7 linked regions of the Homo sapiens genome follow. The protein of the gene in region 2 purifies or fractionates together with the protein of the main gene of each other region. This does not show direct contact. Each region holds a gene or a part of one and is shown on either strand. Other genes may lie near its edges. The genes, in order: RAMP3, TUBAL3, WRAP73, NUDCD1, RIC8B, ITM2B and CCT6B.

The links.
Region 1: the proteins of TUBAL3 (region 2) and RAMP3 purify together in Homo sapiens (co-immunoprecipitation; one large-scale study listed by IntAct). This does not show direct contact.
Region 3: the proteins of TUBAL3 (region 2) and WRAP73 purify together in Homo sapiens (affinity purification with mass spectrometry; one large-scale study listed by BioGRID and IntAct). This does not show direct contact.
Region 4: the proteins of TUBAL3 (region 2) and NUDCD1 purify together in Homo sapiens (co-immunoprecipitation; one large-scale study listed by IntAct). This does not show direct contact.
Region 5: the proteins of TUBAL3 (region 2) and RIC8B purify together in Homo sapiens (affinity purification with mass spectrometry, with the first as the bait; one large-scale study listed by BioGRID). This does not show direct contact.
Region 6: the proteins of TUBAL3 (region 2) and ITM2B purify together in Homo sapiens (co-immunoprecipitation; one large-scale study listed by IntAct). This does not show direct contact.
Region 7: the proteins of TUBAL3 (region 2) and CCT6B purify together in Homo sapiens (affinity purification with mass spectrometry; 2 studies listed by BioGRID and IntAct, with this or other methods). This does not show direct contact.

Annotation. Positions count from the first base shown.
Region 1 is NC_000007.14:45,160,478-45,164,693, forward strand, and holds part of RAMP3 (receptor activity-modifying protein 3 precursor), read left to right. Parts: intron 1-1,780; coding exon of another isoform or gene 1,781-1,944; intron 1,945-3,220; coding exon of another isoform or gene 3,221-3,389; intron 3,390-4,216. UniProt on the Homo sapiens protein: Accessory protein that interacts with and modulates the function of G-protein coupled receptors including calcitonin gene-related peptide type 1 receptor (CALCRL), calcitonin receptor (CALCR) and G-protein coupled estrogen receptor 1 (GPER1).
Region 2 is NC_000010.11:5,397,881-5,402,096, reverse strand, and holds part of TUBAL3 (tubulin alpha chain-like 3), read left to right. Parts: intron 1-1,009; coding exon 1,010-1,253; intron 1,254-4,216. UniProt on the Homo sapiens protein: Tubulin is the major constituent of microtubules, a cylinder consisting of laterally associated linear protofilaments composed of alpha- and beta-tubulin heterodimers.
Region 3 is NC_000001.11:3,632,974-3,637,189, reverse strand, and holds part of WRAP73 (WD repeat-containing protein WRAP73), read left to right. Parts: intron 1-91; coding exon 92-195; intron 196-1,159; coding exon 1,160-1,246; intron 1,247-1,895; coding exon 1,896-2,030; intron 2,031-2,115; coding exon 2,116-2,193; intron 2,194-3,686; coding exon 3,687-3,792; intron 3,793-4,216.
Region 4 is NC_000008.11:109,274,523-109,278,738, reverse strand, and holds part of NUDCD1 (nudC domain-containing protein 1), read left to right. Parts: intron 1-3,242; coding exon 3,243-3,387; intron 3,388-4,216.
Region 5 is NC_000012.12:106,812,534-106,816,749, forward strand, and holds part of RIC8B (chaperone Ric-8B), read left to right. Parts: intron 1-2,162; coding exon 2,163-2,771; intron 2,772-4,216.
Region 6 is NC_000013.11:48,266,985-48,271,026, forward strand, and holds the end of ITM2B (integral membrane protein 2B), read left to right. Parts: 3' UTR 1-3,373; downstream 3,374-4,042. UniProt on the Homo sapiens protein: Plays a regulatory role in the processing of the amyloid-beta A4 precursor protein (APP) and acts as an inhibitor of the amyloid-beta peptide aggregation and fibrils deposition. Plays a role in the induction of neurite outgrowth.
Region 7 is NC_000017.11:34,940,585-34,944,800, reverse strand, and holds part of CCT6B (T-complex protein 1 subunit zeta-2), read left to right. Parts: intron 1-1,894; coding exon 1,895-2,005; intron 2,006-2,157; coding exon 2,158-2,317; intron 2,318-4,179; coding exon 4,180-4,216. UniProt on the Homo sapiens protein: Component of the chaperonin-containing T-complex (TRiC), a molecular chaperone complex that assists the folding of proteins upon ATP hydrolysis.

The sequences.
Region 1 (4,216 bases), on a different chromosome or scaffold from region 2:
ACAGAAATCTGGAGGTTAGAGAGGAAGTTGCCCAACCACAGAGACCAGGGGCAGAACCGCCCAGAATCCACAGCCTCCCAAGGTCGACTGACCGTGGCCCATGGCAGCCACTTGCCAGTCTCGTCGATGCTCTTTCTGTCAAGGAGGGGGAGAGCGCCTGTGTTTCATTTCCAAATGACTAGCCACAAAAGCCCTTTCTGGCGGAAATGCATCTGTTTGGCTGTTTATCATCTCTCAGTGGCGTCTGGAAGTCCCTGAGACAAAAGAAACACAGGCCGGCATGTTCTTTGTTTCCCAATGAAACCAACCAAAATGGATTTCTATTTTGATTCAGTTCCTGCGACCTTTACTAATGCAGCCAGTAGCTTGATTGGCAATGGCCCTCTTTTGTGGTGTTGCCAGGAATCTGTCTTTACACCATTGTTCTAACATTGGGTGGGTTGTCAGGTTTTGCTGGGAGCCCCTCAAGCCTCATGTGCACTAGAAATGAGCTCCCTGGGGAGGGCACTTGGTTTCTCAGGGTGCCTGCCTTGTGCAGGCCCAGGGCTGGTGCTGTCACAGGCATCCTCATAGCACCTCCGTGGGTAGAGGAGTTATCCCAGAACACCTGCCTGAGGATGGCATGTGGTCCTCAAAGGCACATTTACAATCTGCCTGAGCCAGGTCCTTGCGATGGGGCATGTGAAGATTATGGAGTATGTAGAGATTTGGGGCATGCAGAGATTCAGGGAGGGGCATGTTGTCAGGGACCCCTCCTTCTCTTTTTAGATAGCTGTGCGACCTGGGTGGGTATTTGTAGAGCCGTGGGGGAGGGGCTGGGCAATGCCCTGGCACTGGGGGTGGTGGGGAATTGATGCTGTCTTTGCCTGGCTCAGTGAGGGAGATCAGGGGCTCAGGGAGAATAATAGTTGCCTGAGGGTAATGAATACTTATCAGGACCTTGTCCCTGAGCTGTGTTTCAGAGCATCATAGTTAATGTGAAAATGTGGCAGACACAGGCCCTGTGTAGGGAGGTGGGCTGTAGGAACAGCCATGACTTGGGCTGGCTGCGGCAAATACCTCCAGGAAAGGGCTGGGGAGGAGAAGGCAGTGGTTCAGATTCATTCTGACTTCCAAGAAGAGGAGGAAGGAAGGAGAGGAGAGGAAACAGGGGAGGGGGAGGAGGGTAAAGAAGGACAGGGGAAGGAGGAAGAGAGGAAGAAGGGGAAGGAGGGGGAGGCAGAGGAGGAAGAAGAACTGGGCTGGGTCTCGGTGGCCTGATAGGTGACAGTCAGAGTAGGCTGAGGGGGGACCAGGCCAAGTGGTCCAGGTCTAGGGGTTCAGATTCAGACCTAGGGGTCCAGGTGGACCAGGCTGCAGGTGTGGGCACTGGCCAGGAGGGACAGGGTGGGGCTAGCCTGGCTCGTGCCCATTGGGATGGTGGGCGGAGCTCAGGAGACCCACCCAAGGGTGCTGAGAGAATCTGTTAGGGAGTGACGCCAGACCCAGGGGTGAGGACAGGAGCTGGATGTGGAGAGCAGCTAGGCGAACCTTCAGAGTCCAAGGCAGGGGCAGCTTTAGGGTGAAGGTGCACAGGCCGCCTTAGTCCTCGTGTGACTCCACGTGGTCCCTGGGGCTTGCACCCCTTGGTCACTTATGCCAGGGCTGTCTTTTCACCTGCAGGCAGGTGCAGTTGAGCAGGGTGGCAGAGGGAGGCCTTGGGAAAGTCGCTTTCTTTTGGGCCTCCATCGTCCCATCTCTAAACTGAGGGAGGTGGTGAAGGAGGCATGATGTTTTTCAGGCCCTTCCCAGGATCAATGCCGACCTGTACTCCAGAATCTGTTGCAGAGCCCAGGCTTGACATGGAGCTTGGAAGTGCCCACTGGGAGAGAAGGAAAGGAAGGTGGGGATCGGGGACCAGGGCTAAGTGGGGCCACTCCAGCCAGGAGCCCTCAGGGCAAGGAGGTGAGCCTTGGATGCAGCCCTGCTTGGCAGACCAAGGGTGGGAATTGGAGTGAGGGTGTCAGTGTGAGGCAATGGTGACATGCCACCTGGAGACAGCTCTGTGGGCAGGTGGCCTGGCTTTGAACCTTGACTCCCCTGCCTTGTCTAAGTGAGGAAGCAGCTGACCCACCCTGCCACAGGGTTTCAGTCTTTAAGTACCTGCCCTGTCTGGCTGTTGTAGGGCTTGGCGGGTTGGGCCACACTTAGAACAGGGCATTCAGGGAGCACTGGTCAGTACTGAGGGGGGTGGAGAGCCTGGCTGAAGGGAAAGAGAAATGGGGCAAGGGTCTGCCAGGTAGGTGCCACTGGTTCTGTTTCTGAATGGGGACATTGAGGCTCAGAGGGGCAAGTGAGTGAGTGTCAGGGTCAGGGGCAGAGCCGAGGTGAGCACCTAGAGCCTTCTGGCTCCTGCTTGCTGCTCTTCCATCCCCCATGCCCTTACTCCTTGGAGTGTGGTCCTCGGACCTGCAGAAGGGGCTTGCCTGGAGCTTGCAGAGATGAGTGCTTTGGCCTCCAAGCCTGCTGGACTGGAATCTACATTGCTTGAGGTCTTCAGGTGATGGCCTGCACATCTGAGTGGAGACACATTGCTTTCCATCTCTCAGTCTCAGCCTTGACCCCATGTCTGAATCACTTGGAGGTTTTAACAAACATGAATTATTGGTTTCACACCCCAGAGGCTCCCATGCAATAGGCCTGGGCTGTGGCCTGGGTGAGCCTATTGTGCAGTTGACTCTGCTGGGTCTGTCCTATCTCTGGTGGCTGCCCTGAAAGATGACAGTGCCCAGAGGAACTAGGGATAGAGCCCCCAAGCCTCAGGGCTTTCTGGGTGGGTTCATGAATGGTGGTCCCTACCAGCCTTATAGAAGAATGGCTTCACTTTTGAGTCTCTTATTACTTTTTGGTTCCTTCAAAGCACTTCAGGGTCTAGAGCTGTGCTACAAGAGAACCTGGGGTCAGCAGCTTGGGATACACAGAAGTGGGAGCTGCTGGTGTCCAGGAAGGAGGCTGTGGTAATGGGGGACAGTCTGATTGTGGAGGAAGAGGGGCAGGTGCTGCCAGCAGCCAGAGGGTCGTGGAGCAGCAGCTCATGGGTGGGACAAGCTGGAGGCTGGGGTCAGCAGTGGTGGGAATAGGAAGTTGGGGCCCGATGGAAGCTAACCTTGACAGAGATTTTGTAGGTGCACAATTATTAACCAATGGAAACACACAGAATCAGAATCACTCTTTTTTACAGATGGGGAGACAAAGGACCAGAAAGGTGAAGGGCCCTGCTTGGAGTCACACAGCAAATCAGGAACTAAACAGGATGAGGTCTCTGTCTTCTGGCTCCGTGCCAGTGGGGCATCTGGAGGGTGGCACGGTCAAGCTTCAGAAGGACACGGGCCTCCATTCCTGCAGAGATGGTATGGCTTCTCTTGAAGGGACGCCAGCTTCAGTCCTGGCTGATGCTTGCCCAGGATTCCATGATGTGAAGGTTCAGAGGGCCTATTTGGGTTAAGTGGGAGAGTACTGTGGCTGAAAACCCACTTCTGCCTTTCTATTAGACTTTAAATAAACTCTGAAGACCTGTACATCCTGCTCCAACCTTGCCCTGGGTCTACCTTTCCAAAGTCACTTCTTCTTTCCTTTACACCCACAATGGTGTGTACCCCACCCTTCCACACACAGTATACCCAGCTCCACTGTGCTCCTGCCTGTGCCCTGGACACCTCTGTTCCTCCTCTGTTCACGTTTTCTAATAGCTTCCTGATTTTTATCTACTTGTTCTGTAAATTATTGAGAGAGGAGTATTCTCCAATTATCTGCTGGGTGCGGTGGCTCATGCCTGTAATTCCAGCACTTTGGGAGGCCAAGGCGAGAGGATCACTGGAGCCTAGCCTGGGTAATATGAGATCTTGTCTCTACAAATAACAAAAAAAAAATTAGCTGAGTGTGGTGGCACATGCCTGTGGTCCCAGCTACTCAGGAGGCTGGGGTGGGAGGATTGCTCAAGCCCAGGCAGTGAAGGCTGCAGTGAGTCATGATCACACCACTGTACTCCAGCCTCGGTGACAGAGTGAGACTTTGTCTCAAAAGAAAAAAAAAAGAATTCTCCAATTATAATTGTGAAATTGTGGATTTGTCATTTTCTTTTTGTAGTTCTGTTTTTGCCTTGTGTGTTTTGATGCTGTTATTAGGTGCATACATATTTAGGATTGCTACATCATCTTGATGAATTGAGCCCTTTATT
Region 2 (4,216 bases):
GCCTATTTTTGAACATATTGGACATCATACTCTATATGCAATCATGCATCTTATGTGCTTTTTACTTAATATGTTATCATAAGCATTTCCCATGTCATAAATCTTTTTTTTTTGGGAAAACGTTTAAGGGTTGCATAACATGTCATTGTGTTGATGTAACATCCTTTAAATGCTCAACAATATATAAATGGTTAGATTAAATAGATTGGTTTTTGGTTTTCATGCTTATGAATTGTGATGCTTGTGAATGCCATCAGCCTACATCCTTGCATTTTAGAGTCTTTCTTTTGTAATTTGTTTGTTTATATCATTTGCCTAGCTAGTGGATGTCTTAAGTGTTTTTTTTTAGAAAGTTGATGTATATAAAATCAATTTTTATCTCTATATGTTTGTTATAAAACTTTTACATTTTGGAACTGTTAAATCTATTGCATTTTGCCTTGTAAAATTTCCCACTAGTTTTAAGTTTAGTATATCCATCCTTATTCAGAGTGCATATGAATGGTAAAGATAACATTTTAAATTTATCTGCGATGAGTTTTAGTACTTGACAAGGCTATATATTGATTTTAGTTTTATTTCTTTCCAATAACTAGCTAATTTTATTTCTAGACAAGCCCACTTGATATATATAACTACACGCACACACACACACACACACACACATCTCACCTATATTGAAAGAATAAAGTAAAATTAGTTGTATTTTGATTTGCATTGTGTGTGTTTGTCTTAATTCAATTCTTAGCCAAGTACAGAGTAGGTGCTTAATTTATGTTGTTAAAATAAACTTTTTAATGGAATTTAAATCCCAGGTTTAATTTTCCCTGAAGCTTAGCTGTACCCTGGGTCTTGGTTTCCATGAAACGCTTTTGATTATCCTTATAACACATTCCTCCGTGGCCTTAAGCTAGCTTGGTTTCTGTCATTTGTAACCAGAAGGGCTGAGTAACAGATCTCCTGTTTTCTAAACACCTGCTCAGTTCCAACTCACCATGACTTATTTTAGAGGGAGTGCCTTTCCATCCACATCGGTCAAGCTGGCATCCAGATTGGGGACGCCTGCTGGGAACTCTATTGCCTGGAACATGGAATCCAGCCAAATGGCGTTGTTCTTGACACTCAACAGGATCAGCTGGAAAATGCAAAAATGGAGCACACAAATGCATCTTTCGATACCTTCTTCTGTGAGACAAGAGCTGGGAAGCATGTGCCTAGAGCACTCTTCGTGGACTTGGAGCCAACTGTTATAGGTACAATAAATGTTCCATTCTAGCATACTTAACTGGAGCCACACTCAAACAAATCAAGTGGATGGGATTAGCAGATTATACAGGTCTATCTGAATGGAATCACATGGACCTTTCCCAAATGTAGAGGCTTACTCAGTGGCCATGGGTGATTAACATGACAAACACACCCAAAGGGAAGACCAGATTAGTGTTTTTGAATTTAAATTTATTTATTTATTTATTTTGAGATGAGTCACTCAGGCAGGAGTGCAGTAGCGTGATCTGGGCTCACTGCAACCTCCGTCTCCTGGGTTCAAGCAATTCTCCTGCCTCAGCCTCTGAGTAGCTGGGATTACAGGCACACACCATCATGCCTGGTTAATTTTTGTATTTTTAGTAGAGATGGAGTTTCACTATGTTGGCCAGACTGGTCTTGAACTCCCGACCTCAAGTGACCCACCTGCCTTAGTCTCCCAAAGTGCTGGGATTACAGGCGTGAGCCACCACACTTGGCCTAGGTTAGCCTTCTTTACCTGTGTGATGAAATGAATTAAGACCTGCTAATTGATCCACACATATATCATAATAGAACACTAAGTCTTTTCCTGGGTTTGAGAGCCATTTGCTAGAAGGCACTGGCAAAGAATCAAAAAGTTTTTCGATAGCTGCTTAAAAAGAGTAGAATATTTGAAAAGAATCCTAAAGGAAAAAGAGGCCAAATATATACCCTAGTTATGGGAAAAACAGTACAATTTTATGATTACTAACAATAGACTTGTAGTATGTCATGCAAAAACTCTTGAAATGGAGCTAGAAAAATAAAGGAGAGAGAAGGGGCTCTTACTGACTTAAGAGAAAAGCTAGACAGTGGGGTAGATTTGGGTTTGATGTTGTGCATCCCATTATTTGTTGGCGTGTAATAAACTTCCCCTACATTTAGTGGTTTAAGGCAATAATGATTGCTGGTTTGTTCATGAATCTACAGTTTGGGTGGGGCTCAGAGGTGACAGCTCGCCTGTGCTCCATGTGGTACCAGCTTGGAAGGCTCAAGTGGGAACTGGGGCATCCACTTTGAAAGTCACTCATTTACATCGCTGCCCCTTGGTGCTGGCTGTTGACTGAGAGAGTGGGAGGGGTGGAGAAAAGGAGAGGCTGACGAATTCAAGGTCATGATAAGAAGGAATTGAATACAACCCCATAAACACTTCAGCTGGGTGATAGAAGTACAAAGATGAATAAATGTTGATTTTTGCCTTCGACGTGAAGATGCCTGTCTTGGTCAACTCGGACTGCTGTATTGGAACACCATGGACCCGGTGGCTTAGACAACAGTTGTTGATTTCTCACGATTCTGGAGGCTGGAAGTCTGAGACCAGGGTGCCTGGTGGTTGGCTTCTGGTGAAGGCTCTCTTCCCAGCTTGCAGATGGCTGCCTTCTCACTGTATTCTCATATGGCAGAGAAATAGTCTGTGTCTCTTCTTATAAGGGCCCTAATCCCATAATGAAGTCTCTACCCTTATGACCTAATTACTCACAAAGACTCACCTCCAGATACCATCACATCAGGGATTAGGGATTCAACGCATGAATTGTGGGGGGACACAGCCATTTAGTCCACAGCAGCTATTGTTTACTAGTTGGGGAACTGCACAGGTATTTTCCTCTAATTCTTTCAACACTCTGTCAGGAGACATTATTATCATCCTCAATTTATAGATGAGGAACTTTATAAATCTTGGGGAAGTCAAGGAACTTGCTTAAGATCACTGAGTTATTAGAGTAGAGCTGGGTTTGGTCCTAGGTTTGCCTTCTTATTAAATCTATTGTCTTTTAACAGGAAAGTAGCCTAATCTAGTGAATAAGAAAAAATAAATAGTTATAACAACACTGTTGAAATTGAGCCATATAAAATTGCCAGTATATGACTATTTTTTAATCTAAAAAAGTTAATTGTATTGTATATGATACAACTTAATAGACATTTCTACAACAAGTGTGTCCAATAATTTGACCTCCCTGGGACACATTGGAAGAAGAAGAATTATCTTGGGCCACACATAAAATATACTCACACTAACAACAGCTGATGAACCAAAAAAAAATATTGCAAAACGATCTCATAATGTTTTAAGAACGTTTACCAATTTGCGTGGGAATGCATTCAAAGCCATCCTGGGCTGCGGGATGGACAAGCTTGCTCTGCAAGGCAGAAGGAATGAATAACCGGGGAGTCATCCAATATGTTTGTTTGTTTGTTTGTTTTTTAGAGCGAGAGAGACTGGGTCTTGTTCTGTCACCCAGGCTGGAGTGCAGTGGCGTAATCATAGCTCAGTGAACTCCTGGGCTCAAGCAGTCTTCCCACTTTGGGGTCCTGAGTAGCTTGGACTACAGGCACATGTCACTACATGTGGATAAGTTTTTTTTTTTTTTTTTTTTTTTTTTTTGAGACAGAGTTTTGCTCTTTTTGCCCAGGCTGGAGTTCAATGGCACTATCGCTGCTCACTGCAACCTGTGCCTCCCGGGTTCAAGCAATTCCCCTGCCTCAGCCTCCTGGGTAGCTGGGATTACAGGCACATGTCACCATGCCCTGCTAATTTTGTATTTTTAGTAGAGACAGGGTTTCACCACGTTGGCCAGGCTGGTCTTGAACTCCTGACCTCCAGTAATCCACCTGCCTCGGCCTCCCAAACTACTGGGATTATAGGCAAGAGCCACTGCACCCGGCCAATTTTTTGTTTTTTATAGAGATAGGGTCTCACTATATTGCCCAGGCTAGTTTCAAACTCCTGACCTCAAACAATCCTCTCACCTTGGCCTCCCAAAGTGCTGGGATTCCAGGCATGAGCCACCACACCCAGCCTCACACACCTTCTCATGAGGTGACAGCATTTGCAAATTCAGAGTCATGAAGGAATGCCCCGCAAGTGTAACCAGGAGTTCAGCTTGGCCAGGCATAGGTGTGAGCAGGAGCTCAAAGCAGGGGA
Region 3 (4,216 bases), on a different chromosome or scaffold from region 2:
TTTCCTCCTCCTTCCTTGTGAATTACTACTGTGGTTTCTCTTGCTTGATTTTGTGGCCGCTTGATTTCAGTGCATTTGCCTCTTCCCACAGGAATCACCTTCACCAGGGACGGCCGCTACATGGCGCTGGCAGAACGGCGCGACTGCAAAGATTACGTGAGCATCTTCGTCTGCAGTGATTGGCAGCTCCTGCGGGTAAGGCGTCCCCCAGACTGGAATAAAGTTGTCCTGCTGACTGTGGAGGGATCGAGTGAAGTAGATCCTTCCAGATTCCAGGGGATCTTTGGTAGGATATGGAGCAAGGTGATGTTGTATTAACAAAGGGCAGGTGCGCTGCGAATCACTTCCAGTGGCACCCGGTTGTGTGTTCAGGAGACTTGGTGAAAAGGACGCGTGCCCAGGTGTTTTAAAAGTGAATATGCTGTCACATTTGAGCCCTTTTCCTTGTCCTGTGTGATGGTGTTTGCGCATGTGTGTGCCACGTCGGGAGTTGGGGGGACGTGGAAGTTCACCTTGACTGAGGGCCTGCATTAGGCAGGGCGCTCTGCCAGGTGCCCAGGCACAGAGGGCACTGCCCCCACAGCAGACATATGAACACGATTCCAGCACAATCCATCATTAAGGTAGAGCAACCTCTGGAATGCTGTCAGAGTGCAGAACCCGGGATCCAGGCAGTGCTCTGGAAGGGACTTGTCTGAGCTGGGTCTAAAGGAGTGAGCCTGGCCAGGCAAGGAAAGGTGAGGGGGAGAGTGTGCACATGAGTGCAGGTGCGGGGAGACCAAGCCACCTTCGGGGGCTGGCCAGGCAAGGAAAGGTGAGGGGGAGAGTGTGCACACGAGTGCAGGCGCGGGGAGACCAAGCCGCCCTCGGGGGCTGGCCAGGCAAGGAAAGGTGAGGGGGAGAGTGTGCACACGAGTGCAGGCGCGGGGAGACCAAGCCGCCCTTGGGGGCTGGCCAGGCACTGACGCTGGCATCTGTGGCGGTGCAGCCCCAGCAGCAGCTCTACAGGGATTTCATGCATTTCCAGGATAGAGCTGTTGAGATTTTGTCAATTTCTATATAAGGAAATTAAGTGCGTTAAGAACATCAGTCATAAATGCAATTATTTATTTACGAAAATATTTTCCAAATTTAATGTTTCCCCCCCTTCCTTTGGAAGCATTTTGATACGGACACCCAGGATCTCACAGGGATTGAGTGGGCCCCAAACGGCTGTGTGCTGGCAGTGTGGGACACCTGCTTGGAGGTATGAAGATGACCAGGTGACATGTTTGCTTTCGAGAGCTTTTCCCGGAATTTCATGCTTTCTGAATGCTGCAATATAGTTTGCTTTATCTTATTTCAGATAACAAGTTGAGCTTTGTTTTAAAAGACAGGGTCTTGCTCTGTCACCCAGGCTGGAGTGCAGTGGTGTGATCACGGCCCACTGCAGCCTCGACCTCCTGGACTCAAGTGATCCTCCTACCTCAGCCTCCCAAGTAGCTGGGACCACAAGCATGCACCACCACGCCCGGCTAATTTTTGTATTCTTTGTAGAGATGGGGTTTCACCGTGTTGCCCAGACTGCTCTTGAACTTCTGTGTTCAAGTGATCTGCCAGCTTCGGCCTCCCAAAGTGCTGGGATTACAGGCGTGAGCCACAGTGCCCGGCCGAGTTGAACTTTTATCAGCGAGCCATTAGGTTGACCTCCCAATTTCCCCTTTTTCCTCATGCTCTCACTGCCTCTCCGTGACTATCTCAGTACTAGCTGGCAGTTCCAGCTTTTCCACGGCCACGCGGACAGTCCTGCCAGCTTTGTGCTATCTGCACCAATGTCACTCTGCAGCACCCGCGTCTGTGGTGTGTTCCTGGCGACGGGGGTGTATTCATTATTAACTGAAATGTCTCATCTGCAGTACAAGATTCTGCTGTACTCATTGGATGGCCGGTTGTTGTCCACGTACAGCGCTTACGAGTGGTCCCTGGGCATCAAGTCTGTGGCCTGGAGCCCCAGCAGTCAGTTCCTGGCAGTTGGGAGCTATGATGGAAAGGTGGGAACCAGTGCAGGGCACTCAGGAAGTCCGACCGCCCAGCGGGCCGGGCCCTGCCTCACCTGTGCATGGTTTCCTTCCTCAGGTGCGCATCCTTAATCACGTGACTTGGAAAATGATCACGGAGTTTGGGCATCCTGCAGCCATTAATGATCCCAAGATAGTAAGTCTGGAACACGTGTTTCTGCCTGAGCAGGCTGTTGGGGAGGGCGGTGGGAAACTGCTCCTTCACTTTGCTTTCTTGATTGTGGTTTATTATTTAACCGGGCACTTCCATCACCGTAAACTTGCTACTGTGACATTTCACGCGTCTGGCCCTGCCCTGGCCTTTGTTCTTCCTCCTCCACGCTGCCCAAAGGGTCTGAAGTGGGCCTTGCCCTGGCCTGTCCTCTGCCGCTGCCACCCCAGTCCAGTTTTCTCCTTTGTGGTCTGTCTGGATGCAGATCCCTGTGCTGTACAGAGTGGCCAGGGTCTCCTGCCCCCAAACACTGGGCATCTGCTGTCGTGCCAGGCACTGTGCTCTGGGCCGCAGCCAGAGAAGAAGAGACAGACCCCTGCACTTGCAGAGTGCGGCTGGAGAGACAGGGAAGGGGCTGGAGAGCTGGGTGTCTCCACGGGGTGGCAGGGAGTGGCCACCAGCGAGGGATCGCAGGCACAGATGCTGCACCAGTGATCAGGGACTCGGGGAGGGAGCGTTCCAGGCCAAGGGAACAGGAAATGCAAAGGCCCCGAGGAGTGGGCCACGCATCCATGTGTGCAGCGGGCACTGCGCTGGGAGCCAGAGACAAATGCTGCCCTCCTGGTGTTGACCTGTAACCGACAGAGCTGAGTGAAAGGCGGCTTGGATTCGATGAAGAGGCCAGTGAGTGGCTGGGGCTGCGCATGCCAGATCAGCCACTGCCGGGGATGCATCCTGGAGGGGTGTTTAAGTGAAGACCAGGAGGAGGAGCTGCGCGGTGTCTGGGCAGAAAGGGTGTTTCAGGCAGAGGGGCCTCCTGACGTGGCCAGTGGCTTGTGTGGCTGGAGGCCAGGGTGTCTGGACAGGTGAGCCCGAGCAGGGCTGGCCACACAGGTCCTGAAGGTTTGCCTGTGATTCCTGCATTCTCCAAATCCCTTCGCCACACAGCAGCAGAGCATGCTTTAAAGGCATGAACCAGGCCAGGTGACTCCCTTACCTGGGGCTCTTCAGGGGCGTAGGGGCTGCCCGCCTTCCACTGAGCCTGGGCCGCTGTCCTTTGCTTGCCAGGCTCTCGGGCACAGATGCCCCCACCTCGGGTCTGTGTCTGCTGCTCCCGGGGCCTCTGCTGTGTTGGTGCAAGTGTTCTCTGTATCCTCTTATCACGGAGGGAAGGCTGAGCCCACTCCCTTGCTGGATGATGGTGGCTGCAGTGGTCTCCCGTCTGTAATCACAGGGCACACATTTGCTGCCTGTGTCTCAAAGGGTGGGCTCCTCAGCAGGACACGAGAGAGGGTGGCTGGGTGATCTCAGCTCTCGGGACTGCGGGGTTCGTGCTTCCGTCTCTCCCGGTGGCAGCAGGACCAGCTGTCATGGCAGGCACACCTGTTGACCATGCGCTGTCATGGGCATTTGCCACGTCCATCCTTGGCTTCCGGGTCCCTGTCCTGAGCCGGGCGTGGCCACCTTGTGTCTTTCAGGTGGTGTATAAGGAGGCCGAGAAGAGCCCACAGCTGGGACTGGGCTGCCTCTCCTTCCCGCCGCCCCGGGCCGGGGCCGGCCCTCTCCCGAGCTCAGAGAGTAAATGTAAGTAGCACATGTGATGTCATTTGTTTTCCTTTTTTAATGCAAGATTCCTCGTTGTCCAGATAAACTTCGGATGTTCCTTATGTTTAAAAAAAAAAACTTTTTTTCCCTTCCATGCTTCCAGCCAGTGTGCCCCTCAGCCTGTTGGCTGGAGGTTGACTAGGGTCTGAATTGCGCAGTGGGCCGTGAAGGTGCGGCTTCTGTTACTGAATATGAGCCCTGGAGACCCGGATCTGACAGCGGGAGCTCCGAGGGGATGTTTTTCCGGAGCTCCGAGAATGATGTTTTTCAAAGAAACACTTTTCCGTGGGTGGCGCTCAGAGTGGGTCTGGAACCCGGCGGTGCTCCCGAGCGCTGTCTCCGGCTTGAGGCCCGGTTCTGATGCAGCCTCTTGACTCTGGGCATTTCCTATGTGTCTGTTTCC
Region 4 (4,216 bases), on a different chromosome or scaffold from region 2:
AATAAAGTGCTAGCAATAAATAAAAAGCAATATGAATGAATTAAAAACATGTGGAGTGAAAGAAGCCAAAGACAAAAAATCATACTGTATGATTCCACATATGGAGTTCTAGAACTGGCAAAACTAATCTATGGTGATACAAATCAGAACACTTGTTATCTCTAGGGTGTAGGGAGATTGACTGAAGAAAGGCCAAGGGAACTGCCTGTATGGTGGAAATAATTCAGTATCCTCATTGGGTTACAAAGGTGTATGCATTTGTCAAAATCAGTAAATTCTACACTTAAAACCTGTGAATTTTATTTATAAATTACACCTCAATTAAAGGAGCAAAACTGTGTCTTTTTAAAAAAAGATAAAGTTAAGTGTCTTTTAAAATTATAATCCTTTGCCCCCCACAACTGTGCCATTTTGCAAATCTATTATTCCAGGCAGTTTTTTCCCCAATTATTTGGATTACTAAAATTACTTTCTTTTATTTTAAATCAAGTCTTAGTAATTATTAAATTCAGTGATGGATTAATGAATAGAGTTAGGCAGTTAATTTTTTAAATAGTCAAATTTGGTCAGAAATGAGAAATGGTTGATTTAAAATACAACCTAAATCTTGTGCTTTAAGTTGATGTTACATAGAGGATAACTTAGATGTTTTTACACAAAGTATAGTTCTTAATTAGTAGTATATGATCCATGTGAGTCTGATACAAGTCTAAATCATGAGCATCCAAGAAAAATATATCTAGCTCATAGAAAGTTTGAAGTTGTAAAAGGTATCTTACATTTTATTAATGAAGACATTTGGTGATTTTGTTACACTTTTTAATATATCAAAAATAATTGCTTGAAAGTTTCTTTTAAAAGTATTTTGTATCTCCACATACTCCATTTAATTATGTTTATGTGTATGTGAGTCACATTTACAAATTGGCAAGCCAACTAGAACATATTGTTAAATGTAAGTCATCAAGCAGTAACCCAGCAAAGGTCTGGGGGAATAGCTTGACTTCATGTAAGTAGTTTCAGCATTCAATGCATCAACATAGATCAGTATTATTTTTCCATTAAATTTGAGGTGTTTGATTATTATTTTGTGTTAAAAAAGATAACTACAATGTAGCGTAGGTGGTATTGTTGTTTTAAAAACACGATTTTCTGTACTTGAGTAAATTATTCGTACCTCTCGTTTTCAAAAGTTACTGTTGTCTCACTTTGGAAAGATTTTTTTAACTAATCTGTAGTTTATTATATTTGGCATTGTTTGGGGTTTTTTTTTTGCTTGGATGGTAGCATACAATACTAGTTTTAAAACGTACAAATGCAGTCTTAGAAGAAGGGTGCACTGATTAACTGTGCAAATTAATGATGGTTTGGAAATTATAACAGATTGTATCAACTCTTTCAGACCTCTTTAGGTAGCAACTAAGAACAGTTCACTGGGTAAGTGTTCTTTAATAGTTATTTACATATATTTTTTCAGAGAGGCAGAATAGTGCAGTAGTGAAGAACATGGACTTAGAGCCAGACTGTTTAAATAGCTTGTGACCTTGGCAAGTTGCTTAACCTCAGTACTTTTTTTTCTTACTTGTAAAATGGTGATGATAATAATATTTACAGTACTTTATTTGGTTGTTGTAACCAATGAGTTAAAACATGTAAAGTGCTTAAGACAGCACCTGACATATAGGTAAGTATAAGCTATGGTCATTATTACTATTATTATCATCATCATTATTATCAAGATTACCTTTATCCTTAGAAAATGTAACTCAGTCTGGGGGCTGGGCACGGTGGCTCACACCTATAATCCTAGCACTTTGGGAGACCAAGGCAGGCAGATCACTTGAGGCCAGGAGTTTAAGATCAGCCTGGCCAACATGACAAAACCCTGTCTCTACTAAAAATACAAATATTAGCCAGGTGGGCATGATGGCGTGGCCTGTAATCCCAGCTACTTACTTGGGAGGCTGAGGCACGAGAGTCACTTGAACCCGGGAGTTGGAGGTTGCAGTAAGAGAGATTGTGCCATTGCACTGCAGCCTGGGCAAGAGAGTGAGACTCTGTCTCAAAAAAAGAAAAGATGTAACTAAATCTGGGCTTTTATTGTGGGAGTAATTTTCAGTGCTAATTATAAGTACTCATATTATTATTTTGTATAGTCTCTTAAAATAGGTAGTTTCAGAAAAATGTTAAATGCTGTAATTCATAAGGTAGTGATTGTAACAGTCTTGAAAAAGAACAGCTGGTAAGTTTGCGTGTCCTATTTGATAACTATAATAGTTATTATTGTATTCTTGCAGTTGTGTTCCAGGGCATGAGCTAATATGGTACATGTGTACGAAAGATGGCACATGGAAAAGGTTGCTTTGTTGTGGAATAGCTATTACCACTCCCCTTTTCTGTTATAGCAGTGGGTGCTCCCAAAGCATCTTACTTGGGTTTTCCTTCCTATTCCAGAGGAACATGGGACAAGTTACTTCTTCTCCTATGTCCGTAGTCTGCCTTGACTCTGCTCTCTTTCCCTTTCCTGCTGCATCAGTCCTTGATCTCAGGGTTCCCTGACAGACCATTTTAAGTGCATCTGGAATTGTTTAGTTGTTTACATGTACAGAATTAGATTTTAAATAAGTTAATAGAGAACACATTAACATCTTTTTTCCCTGTATTACCAAAGTTAATTTTTTTCCTTATTTCTACTTTTCAGTTATTTAACATCTGTATTTTAAAATTAAGATTTGCGTTGATTTAACCTGCTTGATCTTCAGGTTAATAATCATATATTATGGCTCTTAGTTTGTGAAAATAAAGTTAATTGTTGATTCCAGACACAAAGAATTATCCTTTAATTACAGCCCTTTTACTCTTTGCTTACATGCCCACACCCCCGACCATTCCCCAGATGTCTTATAGATCCATGCTTCTTGTATTTCTATTAAGTTCAGGAACATACTGCATACCAGTACTTTCTGGATGACTTGACTCTTTCCAGGCAATCCTCTCTTCAGGCCATTTGATGTACCATTTCCAGTGGTACTTTCTTTCTTTATTAAATCTGGACTATTTGCCATTGGATTATAGGTTTTCCATCACATGCAAAACTTAAATGAGCAAGATTTTTGGTAAACCATCCTCTGGACACCGGAGGGTTCTTTCTATAGAAGATAGAAACAAACAATGTTTGCTACTGATTGTATAATTTGTATAATTGCTTAATGTAACATTACTTTTCCCATTTAAACTTCTAGCTTGGAGATTTCCTTGATTAAGAAGAATGAAGGACTGACCTGGCCAGAGCTAGTAATTGGAGATAAACAAGGGGAACTTATAAGAGATTCAGCCCAGTGTGCTGCAATAGCTGAACGTTTGATGCATTTGACCTCTGAAGAACTGGTAAGTAGTTGGAATAGTAGTGTGACTTTCCAAGGGTCCAAAAATATGTTATGTGAAGATTATGCCATGCTTTTCAAACAATATTTTGCTTTTCCTAATATAAAAGATACATATCAGATACTACTGATCTGAGTGATGTTTGAATATGGCCTAAGTTCTAATATTTATTTCTTACACTATGTAAATACATACATATATGTGTGGTCATACTGTATAGAGGGTTTGCCTGTATCTGTTTATGTGTGCGTATGTATTGTGCGCTCTCTCTCTCTACATGTATTCTTTAGGAGAATCAACTGACCAATGCTGGTAGGACAAAAATTATGTTACAATTTATTTGCTAAGAATCTACTTATCCCTAAAATTTTTGAGGTGAGTTTACAATTTTGCAAGGATATATGTATCATATATAGTATAGTTATTTTTTCTTTATAATGTAATTCATTGTGATAATTACAGTGACAACACAATACTTAATCATGAGGTTGAATACATTCCCACTCTCATGACGTGTAAGATCATGTTAAGAATGTGAACAAATACAGCAGTACATCAGAACTTGAAATTATGTGTTCGTTTTCTAACAATGATATCAGCATATGAAAGATGTCTGGTTTATTGCCATCTTGAATTATAGAGATGAGGAAGACTGTGCAAAAATTATTTATACTGTAATGTTACTTGCATCCTAAGATAGAAAAGAAGGACTGGAATATTGAAAGTGAATGTCACTATCAAAAGGAAACATGGCTAAATAGAGAAACTAAGTTTCATGTTTGCCAGTAGTAATTGAAAATTTCAGAAATCACTGGAATTCTTATGTAGGACT
Region 5 (4,216 bases), on a different chromosome or scaffold from region 2:
AAGTTCACATATATAATATTTTATAATACCTTATTACATGTTTCTCAACTTAAGGAGGATGGTAGATATTTCCTTCTTGAATAAAATTGTGTGGAAACAAAGGTGATCTGACTCCACCCCCAGGAATATACCACATGTGAAGCAGTATGTAGAATGTATTTTTTTGTCTTGAATATGAAAGATCTAAATATGGAGAAAATTTTCCCTGTTCTGTATACTTTTAATTAATGGGCACATTATACTTTCCACTATCCCCAAACTACATTCAAAAAAAGTGCTTTAACAATGATAGTAAAATATTAAGAGAAAGTCCTTTCTAAATATCAGGTATGGCAGGGATAGAATTGACAATGTTATGAAATTTTTTTTTGTCTTATCAGATAAAGTTCTTTTCCACATCTATTTAGAGAACGCAATACAGTCATCCCTCTGTATCGTGCAGTCTGCATCTATGAATTTAATCAATTGTAGGTTGAAAATACTCAAGGAAAAAAAGGATAGTTGTGTAGAACATGTACAAACTTTTCTGTCATTATTCCTTAAATAATAAAACGATTTACGTAGCATTTACATTGTATTAGATATTATAAATAATCTAGTGATGTCTTCAAGTATACAGTAAGAAGTGCATAGGTTATATGCAAATACTATGCCTTTTTTTTTTTTTTTTTTTTTTGAGACAGAGTCTCGCTCTGTTGCCAGCCTGGAGTGCAGTGGCATGATCTTGGCTCACTGCAACCTCCGACTCCCTGGTTCAAGTGATTCTCCTGCCTCAGCCTCCCGAGTAGCTGAGATTACAGGCACGTGCCACCATGCCCAGCTAATTTTTTGTATTTTTAGTAGAGACGGGGTTCCACCACGTTAGCCAGGATGGTCTTGATCTCCTGACCTCATGTTCCGCCTTCCTCAGCCTCTTGAAGTGCTGGGATTACAGGCGTGAGCCACTGCGTCCAGCCTTCTATACCATTTTATATAAGAGACTTGAGTATCTGTGGATTTTATTATCTGCAGAGGGTTCTGGAATCAATCCCACACAGATACCAAGGGATGACTACATTTAAAATAGGCATTTTTGTAGCTGATGACTATGTGCACATAGCCTAGGTTTCCTGACAAGATCACAATGGGACCCACAGGCAGCCTCTTTTTATTGAAGAATTAAGTCTGATGATAGATTAATAGAAATTTTGTAAAATCTTATATTGGTAATAGTAGTTGTTGTTTTTATAAGATGTAAGGGAGTACAGAAATGTTCGGTGATAGAGTAGTTATACCTGCTTGCCTCACATATAAGGGTAAGCTTGAGAGACCCAGACCTGCAGTTTGTAGAGAAGAAAACTGACATTGAATTTTGAGGGAGTGGTCAGTGATCCTTAAATTTGACAATGGTATAAAAAAATCCTTTTTAGGAAATATAAGATATTTGGGTTCATTCTAGAATTGTTTTTGAGATATTGATAGCAAGGTTTGGAACCAGAACTACTACATATATTTGTACAGTCTGTGCCCTACAGCAAGATAACAAAAGAAAGCTAAAATTCTGTCCACAGTCTGAGCTTTCCAAGCTATGTGTGCTTTTTAATAATTTGCCCACCCAGTGGGAACTTTTTTCTGTAGTTTGTATACCAGGAGGGGTCACCTTTTTGCAATTGGCTCAAGGCATAATAGATGCTAATTCAACTCTATTTGGAACCTAACACTTGAATAATTTTTTATCAGTTTGTCAGCAAAAGTTCTTCTCTGGGGTTGTTTGATGATTAAATATTATTAGATCTTAGCTAAAGGGGGTTCAAGGGTTTCTGAAACATGGGACTGCTGCTAAAGAGCTATAAATTCAGAAGCAATAGCATGACTAAAACTCAGCAGAAATGCATACTTCTTTAAGTCTTTTTGCAAGAGCCTGTACTCTGGACAAATATGAACCAATTCTTGAGACGTTAATCTTTATTTCTGGGAAGGGAACAGCTATGATTCAAACTGATTGTCTTCCATCCTGATGGTGACCTTATATTTCAGTTTCTAACATTCCGTGATTTAAAAAATAATAAAAACCTTTTCTCTCTGGATTTTTAACTGTTGTTAAGTACATTGGCAGAGAAACATTCTGTGTTAAGTCATTTGAGCCAAATAATGATTTTTGCATACTCGTTCTTGTTTTTCAGAAACTCTGTGAAGGCATATTTAAAGTCCTTATAAAGGACATCCCAACAACATGTCAAGTGTCCTGCCTGGAAGTACTCCGCATTCTCTCCAGAGACAAAAAGGTTTTAGTTCCTGTGACAACTAAGGAAAATATGCAGATACTGCTGCGACTAGCCAAGCTAAATGAGTTAGATGATTCTTTGGAGAAAGTATCAGAGTTCCCAGTTATTGTGGAGTCATTAAAATGTCTGTGTAATATAGTGTTCAACAGTCAGATGGCACAGCAGCTCAGCCTGGAACTTAATCTTGCTGCAAAGCTCTGTAACCTCCTGAGAAAGTGCAAGGACCGGAAATTTATCAATGACATTAAGTGCTTTGACTTGCGCTTGCTCTTCCTTCTGTCACTTTTGCACACCGACATCAGGTCACAATTGCGCTATGAGCTCCAGGGACTACCGCTGCTAACGCAGATCTTGGAAAGTGCCTTTAGCATCAAGTGGACCGATGAGTATGAATCGGCCATAGACCATAATGGACCTCCTCTCTCACCTCAGGAGACAGACTGTGCCATTGAGGCCCTCAAAGCTCTCTTCAATGTGACGGTAGACAGTTGGAAGGTGCATAAAGAGGTAAGGTAGAGAAGGCTATTTTTGTCTACCTGGAATTTAATTGGTCTGGGACATCCCTAGAGTTTCCTGCAAGAGAAGAATACAAGTTGGGAAATGGAAAAAGTTCCCACTTCTCCCATTAAGCAATTGTATTACCCAGGATATACTTCTTAACCATTGTAAGTCTTATTCTTTCCATTTGTGTGATAACACCTATCAGAATAGGTGTAAAAATGGACTACTATTTTGTAAGATGCCAAATATAGTTTTCTGAGTTGCATTATTCTCTCTTTTTAAGAGTGCCGCTTTCAGGAATAAGGTTTAAATTATAAGATTTGAGGGGAAACAAAACAATGTAGTTGATAAAGCTATAGGCATTTTCAGTGGCTGCCATCTTAAAGAAAAGTTAAGACAGATCAAGCCAATTGAAGTTGATCAATCAGAATTGGTGTCTGCTCAGGAGAGTAGAAGATGCTCTGTGTATGCCTGTTGTCCCAGTCTCTGGGAGGTTTCTCTGTAGTGTTAGATAACTATCAGAGGCATAGGACCACAACTAGATATCTGTGCTCATATATAAGTTCTAGAAAACAAGCTGATTATACCAGAGTGTGGGAAAGGTTATTTTAAACCACTTGACTTATTTCTAAACAAAGATCTTTCTTCACTGTGGCTTGGACCCTTCAGCAACCCAAAGTGACGCAGATTTGATAGTTTACATTTGAGTACCCACAAGAACAATATGCTAAATAGGAAACTTAGTTTAAGGAAGTCAACAAATTAAGTGAAGTAGACATAAGCTTTTTTCCCTCCTTCTAGAAGCATAACATGTCACATTTATTCTCTTTTTAGCTTTAAATAACTGTTGAAATTCACCCCCTCCTGTAAAAAGAAAGAGATTTTTGGTTCCAGAGCAAATTGTCTTTTTTGACAATTGACTTTAAGATTTAGGCTAACATTTGAAACACTTCTCACCCATGAGTAAAGATCTGTTTTTGCCAGCAGCCTACTTTAAAGGGATTATCTCAGTGCATTGTTATAGGGGGAATATGCAGACATCTGAGTTTTAAAGCGCAAATAGATCTGTATTTTGAAACTAAATATTTGAATATCAGCTCTAACAGCTGTTCTAGATGACTGTAGTATGGTCAGTTTTTCCTGGGACTTGGCAAGAAAAGATGTGGAAAGCCCACATGCTCCATTTATGCATTGAAACCAAATATTTGGAAGTATTTAAAATGTTATGTTTCTATGCTTATTTGGTACCTTCTATGGTTATTTTTCTTACGCTGTTTGTTTTGGGGTTTTTAAGTTCTCCATTTGAGACCTTAAATTCCAGAGACTGTTGGTTTGCCATTGTTAGAGCCCCCTGTTATTTAAATTATACCCAAAATAGTAGCTCACACTGTTCAGATTCCTGACAAAAAAGGGTTTAAAATTCAGTGGCTACACATCAGTATATTTATGAG
Region 6 (4,042 bases), on a different chromosome or scaffold from region 2:
CACTACATTTTAAAATGTAGGGGGGATTTTTGATTGTCACAGGACTAGAGGATGCCATTTGTATTTAGTAGATGAGGCCAGGCAGGATGCTAAATGTCTTAAAAGTCCGGGAGTCCTGCACAAAAAATTACTGCCCTTCTTGATTTGCCAATTATGCCCCTGCTGGGAAGCATGAAAGGAGAGAGAAGAGCTTTCAGAATGTCAGGGATAAATATATCCATTAAGCCTTCAGACTAAGATGCAGGAATAGTTTTCCATTTGGGTATGAATACGGCAAGTTCTTAGAACATTTCTTAAAACATAATTAGCCAAATACTAGTGTAACAGCTACAACTTATCTAGTTTTAATCAACTCCAGGGAACATTACACTTTATTTAACCCCTAATTATCTGATAACCCAAGTTCTGTCAGAAACACTGCTGAGGCATCCAGGAAGATGAGCCTGTGAAATTTGAGAATCCTTCATGTCTCTGGAATGAGTCCCTAGATTCTAGCCCTGCAGCTAGCTGACACTCTAAAAAATTATGAGTGCCTTCCTTTAGCTCCCCATAGAAATGTCTTTGTATAACCATGGCATGATATTATTCTCTTGACTTTTGTTGAGGATTGATAGAAATAAAAATGAGCCAGAAATGTTTCTTCAGCTTTTGTAAAGTGCTGTTAAAAGCATTATGTCATATCTAGTACTTCTTATCTAAGTATTTTAAAATTTAGTGTTAGGAAAATTTTTTTCACATAGGATACATGTTAATATTAGGTAGTACATCTAAAGAATTCATTTGCTTCCCTTTTGCCTTGGTTGCTGGGAAACTCAGAGCCAAACTCGGTGCTTAGATTAATTACTTTCAGCCTAGGTTTTTCTGTATATCACCCTTTCGGTAGGGCTTGAAGTAACCCTTCAGTTTGCTCATATTTTGTTGTGAGTTTTATAGATAGTTTACATGCAACGAAATGCATATATCTTAAGTGTTCAACTCAGTGAGTTTTGACACTTTTCTTTGTCCATGTTAACAATCATCAAAACATTTTCATTGCCCCAGAAAATACCATTGTGCTCCTTTCCGGCAAATATTCCTTCCCTCTGCTAAAACTACTTTTTCATTTCTATGACCATAGTTCAGTTTTTGGCTATTCTTGAACTTTATTTGAATGGAATCGTACATATATAATCTTTTTGTTTGGCTTTTAAAACTCAGTATAACGTTTTGACATTTGTCCATGTTGTTGCATGACTCAGCAGTTCTTTCTTTTCAGTTGCTGTGTAGTAGTCCATTTCTTTTGGTTTTGTGTGTGTGTGTGTGCTTTTTAAATTTATTTTTTATTTTTTTTTTTTTGAGACAGAGTCTGGCTCTGTCAACTCAGGCTGGAGTGCAGTGGCATCATCTCGGCTCACTGCAATTTCTGTCTCCCAGGCTCAAGCCATCCTCTAACCTCAGCCTCCCGAGTAGCTAAGACTCTACAGGCGTATGCCACCATACCTAGTTTGTTTTTGTTATTTTTTTTAGTACAGATGGGGTTTTGCCATGTTGTCCAGGCTGGTCTCGAACTCCTGGGCTCAAAGCAATCCACCCTCCTCGGCCTCCCAAAGTGCTAGGATTACAAGTGTGAGGCACTGTGCCCTGCCAGTATTCCATTTTTTGTGTATACCACAATTTATCATTTTTTTCTGTGTAGGTATTTTCATTGTTTCCAAGTTGGGAAGTATGAATAAAGTTGCTATGAACATGCATGTACAAGTCTTTGTAGATAGCTCATGTTTTAAAAAGTGTTTGTTTAATGATTTCATTGCAAAATCATCTTTATTGTAAACATATCTTTTTGAGGGTAGATTGGTAAAATATACATAATAAATACATGACAATGCAGGAGTCCAAGTATTATTAGGTTTACAGTCATAACAAACACCAAGAACCATTTATAAATTTCAGTTTCTCATTGTTTTAGAATGGAAGGTCTAACCAAATATGTAATGTATCCCTTCAAGTAAACTAGTATAACTTGGGTACCTTCTCATATAAATTCCCCTTAAGGCATACGTTGCTGTCTTTTCCAAATTCCCATTTTGCTTGTCCAATAGGCATTATCAGATACAACATGTTCAAAGGCAAACTTGATTTTCCTCCCATGGTTTCCTCATCTCAGCTCCTTTTTTTTTCCAGTTGCACAGGCTAAAAATAGGAAGTCATTCTAGATTCCTCTCTTTTTCATAAACCTCACATCAAATCCATCAGCCAATCTGGTGTGCTCTACCTTCAAGATACGGATTATCCAGAATTCAGCCGCTTCTCACTGTCTCTACTGCTAACATAGTAGTCAAAGCTGCTATCATCTCTTGCTTGGATTGGTGCAATGGCCTCACAACTGATCTTCCTGCTTCCATACTTGACCCCTAGAGCCTCTTCTAAACAGAGTAGCTAGAGCGATCTTTTCTAAATCTAAGCCACATCATGTCACTCCCCTGCTCAAATCCCAACATTTTATTCAGAATAAAAGTCGAACAATGCCCTACCTGTAGGTAATCTAGGCCTCCAAAGCTCTTCTTACATCACCTCCTGTAACTCTCCCCCTTTCTCACTCCTCTACAGCCACACAGCTGCCTCACTTTCCTTTGAACGTACCAAGGGCAATCCTGCTTCAGAGCCTTTGCACTTGCTGTTTCTGGGCCAGGAATTCCACACCCTCCTTCCCTCACATGTATCCCAAGGCTCACTGCCTTCCTTCAGTTAAGTCTGCTGGAATGTCACTTCATTAGGTATTGCCTGATCACCTTTTCTAAAGTGAGTCTCACCTCCACCCTCAATGCTGGCAATGTCTGTCTGTAGTGTATTCTTAACAATACAGATTAGCACAATGCAGGCCAGACCATGAAGACTGTTTCAAGTTCGAGGATGGGCAAAAATAATGACTAGGACTTGGCTCAAGATTCCTCAAACAGCCAATAAACAATGCAAAGAATAAATGAGAGAGTAATTGGAGACAAGCTTTCCCTTGGCTTCCCTTCTTTTCTCACAGAGGCTTTTCCAGAAGGTGGTCATTTCCATAGCCCATGTGGAATGAGATGTCCACTAGGGCAGAGAAGCACAGAACCGTGGGCACTGCTTCCCTTCCTTTAACCCTATCATATTGCTGCCCAGTGAGCAATATGGTCATTGGTCAAGAAGGCTTATGCCCAGGTATCCCTGTGGCTATGAGCATTGCTCCTTATCTATGCCTCTGCTCTTAGACTTTTCCATTCTGCCCTCTTAGGGGCCTTCCTGGCCATGACCACACTACCTTATTTTTCTCTATAGTACTTATCACCATCTGACATGTATTTATGTTTGTATTTGTTTATTGTCTGTCTCTACAAATAAAATGTAAATTCCCTAAAAACAGAGACTTTATTATTTTTGTTCATGTTACATCCTCAGCACCTAGTAAAGCACCTGGCACGTATTAGGAACTCACTAAATATTTACTGAATGAACTTTGTTCAATAAATTTAACATGGTTCTATGTAGCCTCCTTTTTAAAAATTGGCTCTGTTATATAGACTTCAGGGGCAACTGATAACAAACAAAACCAAACTTGGCTTTTTTCCCTTTTTTTTTTCTTTAATTGTAGTTTCAGAATTTCATCTGGGAGTGGGAATGGCCACAGGAATGCAAGTTCTGTACACCTCAGATTTGGTGCTAGTGATGTTGCCATGTTAAGAAAGTGAGCTGGGCCTTGTGCCTTCAGTAGACAGAATCAAAATCTATTACTTTATTTTAATACCCGAAGTTCAAATTACCTCTTAGGTAGGGATCCCTTAAATGTGATAGTGCTGAATCACAATGGAGGAAAAAAATGGCAAAGAGTATATTGAAATTCAGACTGATTCACAGGTAAAAGGCCTCTTGGAGACAACACTCTGAGAAAGGGACTGCTTTTTTAAAAAATCTGCATGTTTTGGGGTCGAATGGGTTTGGATAGTAGAGACACAAAATGGAAATGGTAGCTGCTTCTCATTGATTCATTTTAATGTAATTTTTAAATTTTAATTTTTTTTTTTTTTTGAGA
Region 7 (4,216 bases), on a different chromosome or scaffold from region 2:
GTGCCTGCCACCAGGCCCGACTAATTTTTTGTATTTTTAGTAGAGATGGGGTTTCACCGTGTTAGCCAGGATGGTCTCGATCTCCTGACCTCATGATCCGCCTGCCTCGGCCTCCCAAAGTGCTGGGATTACAGGCGTGAGCCGCCGCGCCTGGCTGGAAAACATTTACTTTTTTAGTGGCTTTAATGAGAGCTGATTGAATAAAGAGGTGGAAATAAAAGTCAGATTGAAGGTGGCTCAAGAGAGAATGGTAACTGAGAGAAGTGTAGTTATGAAGGAGAACAGAGAAATGGGGCAGTAGCTAGAAGGGAATATGGGAATGGGGCTGAGGGAGAAGGATTTTTTGTATTAATGATAGGAATTGTTACTGCAAGTTTGTATGCTGGTAAGGATGGTTCTTTAGGTGAGAATTGATATAGGGGACTAGGGGACAGTGCAAGAACAGAGAGGGAAATGGAATCCAGTACACAAGTAGAGAGGCTACCCATAGAGAGGAACATGGACAGCTCATTCATAGTAGTAGGAGGTTCAGGGTCAAGTGCAAGTGGATTGGTAGAGGTAGTAATGGGACAATGTTTCTATTTTCTCAAAGAAACAATGTCATTTGCTGACAGTAGGGAGGGAGGAAAGTGAAGGAGGCTTGAAGAGTGAGGAATGTTGAACATAGTGTTATTGTTTCTAGATATGTTTACATTCTGTTAAGAGGTGGAGTAATCTAGTTAAAGTAAAATTTTGAAAACTTCCTTATAATTATGTTGAACTAAAATAGTTTAAAAATATATAACAAAAATTAGTTATAAAGGATTCATAAGTAGAAATTCCATCCCCTGAATGTTTTGTAAATGAATTTTATAAAGTTATAAAAATATTGACTCTTGAAAGATTATTTGGAAAACAGGAAGAAACACCTCCTTTCCAAATCATCTATATTCCTACTACCCAGGCATAACCCCTACTCTTAGGTCCCTCCCATTTTTTTTCTTTTTAATGCCAAGTTGTTTTTTTTTTTAAATTTATTTATTTATTTATATTTTTTATTATACTTTAAGTTTTAGAGTACATGTGCACAACGTGCAGGTTTGTTACATATGTATACTTGTGCCATGTTGGTGTGCTGCACCCATTAACTCATCATTTAACATTAGGTATATCTCCTAATGCTATCCCTCCCCGCTTCCCCCACCCCACAACAGGCCCCGGTGTGTGATGTTCCCCTTCCTTGTCTGTTGTTAAAAAGAACAGTTATAGGCATGCTTCATATGCAATTTGTCATTCTATGCTTATCAGCTAGCCCTATAAATATTTTTCCATGTTATTACATACTTTTTATAACCATCAAATAGTTGGGTCATTATTTGCTGAATAATACCCTATTGTTGGACATTTAGGTTAACAATTTTTAGTTGTTCCATATAATCATTTTGAATAAATGTTCCTAAGAAACTCATTGTATACGTACCTTTCATTACTTGATAAGCTGTGTCATATTTTTGAATCACATAACTTAGAAAATAATTCTGGCTTGACTTTTTATTGTGACTTCATAGTCACACTGTGTTAAAGTAGATTCTCTTTCCTAATTTTACTAATTATATGTTAGGTTTAAAGTCAATGCAAGGAGGTGGGTGAGGTGGTGCACTCCTTTAGTCCCAGCTACTTGGGAGGCTGAGGCAGGAGGATTGCTTGAGCCCAGGAGTTCGTGGCCAGCCTGGACATCATAGCAAGACCCCCATCTCTGAAAACAAAAAACAAAAACACCAAAAACTGTTAAAATTGGTACAAGGAAACAATGTGTGTCCTGGAAGTATTGATGTAACTTTAATAGTACAATGATAATTTTATACCAAATTTTAGAGTATATATTCAAAGTAAGAAACATTAATATTTTTAATAGGTTGATCCAAGGATTAGTTTTGGATCATGGTGCCCGTCATCCAGATATGAAGAAGCGAGTAGAAGATGCATTTATCCTTATTTGCAACGTTTCACTGGAATATGAAAAAACGTGCGTGTTACTTTCTCTTTATAACTTTTGAATTTTTTTTTCTAAAGGTGTTTTAAAATCTCTTTTTCCTTCCAGATGTTTGGTGTAGACTACTTCTATCTTTTTTCCTTTTTCCTCCTGCCTTTACTAGCTGGTTTTTATTAATCTTTTAGAGAGGTGAACTCTGGTTTCTTTTATAAGACTGCAGAAGAGAAAGAGAAATTGGTAAAAGCTGAAAGAAAATTTATTGAAGATAGAGTACAAAAAATAATAGACCTGAAGGACAAAGTCTGTGCTCAGTCAAATAAAGGATTTGTCGTCATTAATCAAAAGGTGAGAAAGAAAGTTTAGATTTTAGTTATTTGTAAATGTTCTTAAGCATTTCTTGAAGTGTGGTCTGTGGACCCCTAAGAATCCCTAAGACTTTTTCAGAGAGTCTGTGAGGTCAAAAACTATTTTCATAATAATAATTACACCTTTTACATTGTGTTGACATTTGCAATGATGCTGCAAAAGCAATCTGTAAAACTGCTGGCACCTTAGTACAAGTCAAAGAAGTAGCACCAAACTATACTAGTAGTCATCGCATTCTTTATTGCTATACCACTGCAAACTTACAGTGAAAAAAAAAAAAGGCAGTATCATTTAAGAGTGTCTTGATGAAGTGGTAAAACTTATTAATTTATTAAATTTTGATTCTGAAATATGCATCCTTTTATTATTATGTGTGACAAAATATGAAGTATGCACAAAGCACTGTTTTTTTTTTTTCTTTTGAGACAGGGTCTTGTTCTGTCATCCAAGCTGGAGTGCTTGGGTGGCACCATCATAGCTCACTACAGCGTTGACCTCCTGGGCCCAAGTGATCTTTCCACCTCAGCTTCCCAAGTAGCCAGGACTACAGGTGTGCATCACCATGCCTGGCTAATTTTTAAGTTTTTTCGTAGAGGCTGGGTATTGCCATGTTGTGCAGGCTGGTCTCAAGTGATCCTCTTGGCTTGGCCTCCCAAAGTGTTGGGATTATGGGGCTGGGAACTTCAAAGCTCTTCTATTGCATACCAAAATATGATGGTTGTCTTGAAGGAGAGCACTTGTGTAATTGTTTAAATTGCAAGGTAAACTAGCCACTTTTTCATGGAATGCCACTTTTACCTGGAAGAATGACTGACAGACAAACTGTGGTTATCTAGATATGGGTATTTGGTAGATTTCTCTCAAAAATGAATGAGGAAATTCTGTGACTTAAAACAACTGACAGTATTTGTTGTCAATAACATTTGAACTTTTTTAAAAAATTAGAATTTCAGAAAACTTGTATCTGCCATGTGAACTTGACAGCTTTCCAATACTTAAAAGACTTTCCTGATAATAGTAGTGATATTAACAAATGTGAGTTTTTGTTCACTGAGATAGGCAAAGTTTCCACATGCATAACATGACACAGTTTCTACATGTATAACACAACATTTTATATATGAAATGTGTCAACATGTGGAAACTTTGCCTAACTCAGTGAACTGATGCTATCTACATGACTAAAAATGCATGATTTTTATAAAATCATACATGGATAAATAATCCATTCAGTGTGCAAGTTACAGCAATGTGTTTTAATGTGAGATAGTATGAAAAGTTCATTGCTATGGTTCCATAGTGAAACTAACCTTTGAGAAACTATTACTTACTGAGTTTTGGTATAGTATCAAAGAAGAATTTCCATAATTATCTGAAAAGCCTATTAAAATATTACTCCCTTTACAATATTTATCTGTGTGGGGCCAGATTTTCTTCATAAACTTGAACCAAAATAACATATCATTCCAAATTGAATACTGAATGAGATATGAGAATCCATTTGTTTTCTATGAAGATAAACATTGAAGAGATTTGCAAAAATGTAAAGTAATGCCACTGCTAGCTCACTATATATATTTTTGTTTTCAAAAGTGTAGTAAATTTTCATTTAAAATGTTATGTGTATTAACATAAAATGGGCTTATTATTTAAATGAATTAATAAATATTTTAAAAATTTCTCAGTTTTTATAATACAAATATTATAGATAGAGCTTACATAAACAAAAGCTTTTTGGGTGCTTAATCATTTTTAAGAGAGTAAAGTGGTGCTGAGACCAAAAGGTTTGAGAAATACTGGTTTAAAACATGTTTATAATTTTTATGTTAATTTGATTATAGGGAATTGATCCATTTTCCTTAGATTCTCTTGCAAAAC